Regions from separate parts of the Homo sapiens genome. Here region 2 is linked to region 1. Evidence: fine-mapped expression QTL. Tissue or cell type: esophagus mucosa. Region 1 holds a variant in brackets; the other region holds the start of a gene. All regions are shown on one strand. Distances are from middle to middle.

The links. PIP is the estimated chance that this variant, and not a neighbour inherited with it, causes the effect.
Region 2: it holds the start of KLK13, and the variant in region 1 is fine-mapped to the expression of KLK13 in esophagus mucosa (GTEx, PIP above 0.99).

Annotation. Positions count from the first base shown.
Region 1 is chr19:51,033,762-51,036,516 of GRCh38, forward strand. It overlaps KLK12 (kallikrein related peptidase 12), which reads right to left and starts at 1,241. Exons shown (of 6, transcript NM_001370125.1): 1 at 1,045-1,241; 2 at 824-879; 3 at 219-378. The coding sequence starts at 860. The variant G/T (reference allele first, on the strand shown) is at 1,544.
Region 2 is chr19:51,063,773-51,066,399 of GRCh38, forward strand. It overlaps KLK13 (kallikrein related peptidase 13), which reads right to left and starts at 1,320. Exons shown (of 5, transcript NM_015596.3): 1 at 1,244-1,320. The coding sequence starts at 1,295.

The sequences.
Region 1 (2,755 bases):
GGTTCCAGGACCCTCCCCGGCCCTCCACCCAACATACCTCACCCTGCCCAGCACCACCCCAGGCCCACTGCTAAGGAAGTTCCACTCCTGGTCTAACCTCAGACTCTCTTGTTGCAGGATCAGCTTCTTCCCAGTGGGCACCACCCTCCCTTGTGATCCTACCCCCAGCGCTTGCCTTCCCATAGTCCTCCCTTCGCCCACCCCAGGAAGGGACTTACCTGCCGCTGCAGTGAGCCGCTGTGAGGACCCACCTGTGGTCAATAAGGACACCCCCGCAGCGCAGGCTGGTGCCCTCAAACAGCCCCACCTGCCACGGCTGTGAGTTACGCCCACACTCAGTGCCATTGAAAATCTTCGGTGTGGCTGCCTGGCTGAGCCCTGGAGACAGACAGGGGCATGGGTCAGAGAGAGGAAGAAAAGATACAGAGATGGAGAGACACACAGAGTGAGAGAGAGAAACAGGCAGGAGAGAGAGAGGAGAAAGAGAGACGAGAAAGAGAGAGAAAGAGAGAGAGACCCAGTGATAGAAAAAGACCATGAAACATCAAAGACACCCAGGGAGAAAGATGCTTACACATAGGAGGGAAATGGAGAGACAGAGATTCAGAGAGGGACAGAAGGGAAGAGGGATCAAAAAATAGGGGAGACCGAGGTGAGCAGTACCCTGAGAGCTGCAGGTAAATGGAGGCACAGAGAAAGCCCCTCTCCTCCTCACCACCAGGCTGGGGGCCAGAGCTGAGATGGGGAGGGTGGTGGGGCCTCCTCATGGGGGTGAAGGGATCCAGTCGCAGTCCTGCCCTCTCCCTGCTCCGGGAGAACTCACCAAGAACACACAGGAGCAAAAAGATGCTGAGCCCCATGGTGGGTCACTTCCAAAGTCTGGGGGAAAAGGGGAATCTCAGAGGTCACCCTTTCCCTGTGCCCCCCACCTCTGCCCTCTCTGCTTCTCTTTGAAGGTCACCAAGGGGATGACCTGCTTGTCCTCTCTCTACCTGCTCCCCTGTGTGTCACTCCCTCATTGGCAGTCGCCTACCTCCTTCTCACCTTGTCTCTTTGTCTGCCAGATCCTCTACGTGGCTGTCACTGTTTGGCCTGTCCTCGTCGCTGCTATCTCTCCGTCCACCTACCTGCCTGTCTTCTCATGTGCTGGCCACTCCGCCAGCCAACTCTACCACTCTGCACCTGGCTCCTCAGCCACCTGTCATGTTGCTCAACCGGTCCCTTTCCTTCCATCTGTCGCTCCAGACAGACCACTGACAAAGCTCTTAACTCTCTTTGTCCTGGCCCATCCAGTTTCCGGGTTAAGGGAAGGGGACCACGAAGACAGGGGTGGGGCGTGCTCTAATTCTGCAGAAACTCTTCTCAGCTAATCACACTTAATTGAGCTTTACAGCTAAACGGAGTGGGGAAGGAGGAAAGGACCCAGGGTGGGAAGACCCAGCCCCACTCCCTCTCTCCTCTGCAAGCCCGTCAGCAGCCCCAGGACTGATGACTCAAGGTGACTAGGGAGCTGGGTTCTAATCCTGACTCCAGTGACAAAGGA[G/T]GGTGGGGAGACCTTGGACACCTGGGGCCCATCCCCATGCAGTGCAGGGGAGGGGCAGGGGGAAGGAGAGGCTGTGAAAGCAGGAGAGTGGACGGGAGGGGCAGGAAGCCCAAGCTAGAAAGAGTCCCAGAAAGAGAAGAAGAGTTGAAGGAACAGACTTCCAAATAGGTGATCAGGCAGGGGTAGAAGAGAGTTTCTGAACTGAGTTCATATATGTACATATGAAGTGGATCAATCTAATTCCATAAAGTTTTTCTTTGCTAAGAACTTCTATTGCTTAAATAAAACCCACAGAGAGAAAAAAAAAAGACACAGGGAAGGAGAAATGGTAGAAAGAGAGAGAGAGAATGAGTCACAGGACAAGGGAACTTTGTGCTGTTTTTTGTTTTTCGTTTTGAGATGGAGTCTCGCTCTGTCACCCAGGCTGGAGTGCAGGGCTGTGATCTCCGCTCACTGCAACCTCCACCTCTTGAGTACCTGGGATTACAGGCACGTGCCACCATGTCCGGCTAATTTTTGTATTTTTAGTAGAGACGGGGTTTCACCATGTGGGCCAGGCTGGTCTTGAACTCCTGGCCTCAAGCAACCTGCCTGCCTTGGCTTCCCAAAGTGCCGGGATTACAGGTGTGAGCCACCATACCTGGCCTCTGTGCTGGTTTATCTGAGTTTTTGCTTCATCTAGGAGGAATGGAAGGAGAGAAAGAAGGAGAGAGAGAGGGGACAGAGAGAGAAAATGAGAACAAAAAGGGAATTCGGCTCAGAGGAAGGGGGATTGAGAAACAAACCAAGAGAAAAGCAGTCAGGGCCAGGCGCGGTGGCTCACGCCTGTAATCCCAACACTTTGGGAGGCCGAGGCGGGCAAGTCACTTGACGCCAGGAGTTCAAGACCAGCCTGGTCAATATGGTGAAACCCCATCTCTACTAAAAATACAAAAATTAGCTGAGTGTGGTGGTGCATGCCTGTAATCCCAGCTGCTCGGGAGGCTGAGGCAGGAGAATCCCTTGAACGTGGGAGGCGGAGCTTGCAGTGAGCCGAGATTGTGCCACCGCACTCCAGCCTGGGCGGCAGAGCAAGACTCCATCTCAAAAAAAAAAAAAAAAAAAAGAAAGAAAAAGAAAAAAAAGAAAAGCGGTCAGACAGAGCGCACAAACAAACAAAAAAACCCAGAACAAAACAGAGGAGAGCAAACTCCCACCCTATGACTGTCTTTT
Region 2 (2,627 bases), 30 kb after region 1:
CTCAAGGGTCAAGCCCTTTGGGAAGGCCTCTGGTCGGGAAGCCGCCATTACATCTCTAGGCCCCTGGCTTGGCTCCTTGAAGTCTTCACCTCATGTCAAGATAATTATTAACTAATTATTTGGATAATTGTTTGAATAACATCTGCGTCTGTCCCCGCTAGACTCCAGGTGCTGAGAGCAGGGACTGTGTCTCTGCTTGTACAGCACCCAGCACAGTGGCCGGTGTTTAATAGCTGTTTGTTGAATGAATAAATGATTCATGAACGGGGTTTCCAGAGAACCTGCCTACAACGGCAGGGAAAGATGGGAAAGATCCATAAGGATCTTAAGGACTACCAATTTGGGGTGAGGTCACATAGGTTTGGGGTCAACCCAAGGATTAAAATAACAATCTAGAAGGTTCTGGAAGGGGCTGAGTATGAAGACAGAATACTAGAGGCCGGGCTCGGTGGCTCATGCCTGTAATCCTGGCACTTTGGGAGGCTGACGCGGGCTACTTGAAGTTAGAAGTTCGAGACCAGCCTAACCAACATGGCGAAACCCCGTCTCTGCTGAAAATACAAAAATTAGTTGGGCGTGGTGGCGGGCGCCTGTAATCCCAGCTACTCGGGAGGCTGAGGCAGGAGAATCGCTTCAACCCGGGAGGCGGAGGTTTCAGTAAGCCAAGATCGTGCCACTGCCTTCCAGCCTGGGAGACAGAGCAAGGTTCCATCTCAAAAAAAAAAAAAAAAAAAAAAAGGAATACTACTAATAAAGTAATAACGGCTAAGTGGCTAACTTTCAAGTCCCTTCTACCTGCGACATACTGAAGGCTCGACGCATTACCTCGTTTCAATATTCACAGTGACCTTCTCTGGTAAGCACTTATAGATTAAGCCCATTTTCCAGATGAAAACAATTTAGGCACAAAGCAGCTGCTAGGCTACTGGCTCAAAGCGGCAGCGTCAGGACGCGAACCCATGTCTTTCAGCTTTCCAGAGAGGACAGGAAGCCTTGAACGCGGGAGGGGCTGCTGCGAGGGTATTTTGGGAGGTGAAGGGTCTGGGGTCGGAGGGCCAACCTCAGCCGGGAAACCAGGTCACCCAGGGACAAGCAGGAAGAGCTCTGAGCTGTCCCCACTGGACCCGGCCCCGAGTGGGCGGGGGGCGGAGCTCGCGGCTCCCACGCCCCCTCCCCCTCCGGCCTGACCCCTCCTACCATTGTCCCGAATGGCCGCCGCGCCTCCACCCCCGCGCATTCTTACCTCCTGACAAGGCCAAGGTCAGGGAGGCGATCACTAGGGCCAGGGGCCACATGGCTCCGGGATCGGGAGGGGAGGGCAGGGCGGGCGGGGCCTGAGGAGAAGGTGAAGGGGGTGTTGAGGGCGTGCCCGGAACCTCCGCGTCTGAAACCTCTCTGCTCCTGAATGTCTCCTCGCCTCATTCACTCTTGACAGCCCTGACCCTGGAATCTGCCCCCCGCCTCCAATTCCATCCTTGGTGGGGGTGCAGTGGCGAGGTGGGAGGAACAGTGTGCAACCTCCTGGGGCTCCGGCGTGCAGCCCCTCACCCCAGGAAGCCGTCCCTCCTCCCCTGCCCTCTGGCGAGCTGGGTGGTCGGTGCACTCTCGCCCTTTTCCTCCAGAGTCTGCCTTCCATTCTACCCCTCTGGGTCTGTCCACACGCTTGGTATTAGCCCAAGTTCTTATCTGTCCGCGCCCTTCGCCTCTCTCCGTCTCTGCAGGTTTCTCTCTAGATCTGAGACTCTAGCTTCACTCTCCCTCTCCCTGACTCAGCTGCCCTTCTGCTTTCCCCATCCTTCCTATCCCCTCTTCTCTCCCCTCCCTGCCCTCCTCCGCTCCCCGCCCCCGCCCCAGGCAGACCCTACCTGAGTGAGGGGCCCACGAGGAGCGTCAGCCGCCAGCTGTCTAGAACTTCAGCCCCGAACCATGGCTTTTAACCCCTGAACTCCCTCCCCCAGCTCACTCAGCATTTCCTGGTCCCTGGCCTCCCCCTCTCCACCCCCAGTGGCTCAGCGGGATGTCTCCAGGCACCCCCGACCTGGGCTTGGCCCTCTGCTTGGGGCGGAGCTTCCAGGACGTGCTGGGACCTAGGTCTGACCCCGCCCAAGGCAGAGTTGAACCCACTGTGAACTTTCAGGCCTCAGGACCCAAAAAAGGGTAAGGGGAAAGCCCATTTCCTTCCCCCTACCCCGCTGAGTTCCATGCCCATCCCTAACTTCAACCCATTCTGCACCCAGTTTTCTAACCTCTTCTCCAACCCCATGCATAATTCTTAATAGGCAGTCAGCCCCCAGATGGCCGTGTTCTATCAGATTCCCACCTCCCTATCCATCCCTAACCATACCAAGTACTCCAGCCTGTTCCTCAACCCCAGTCCCATCTCCAACCTCATCTCAGGTTTAGCTCTCAACACATCCAGGTTCCAATTCCCAGTCTCATCTCAACCCTTTTTCTTTTGAAAGACACAAGGACACCCACAATTATCCCATCATCCTGCCTCCCTGCTCCCGCCAACCACCGGACACAAGAAGGAAATCATCAGCTGGGTGGATAGAAAATCAGCTCCCTCGGACTTGGATGGGGGCAGAGATGCGACCTGAGAAAGCAACATTTTCCAGAAATGGCCT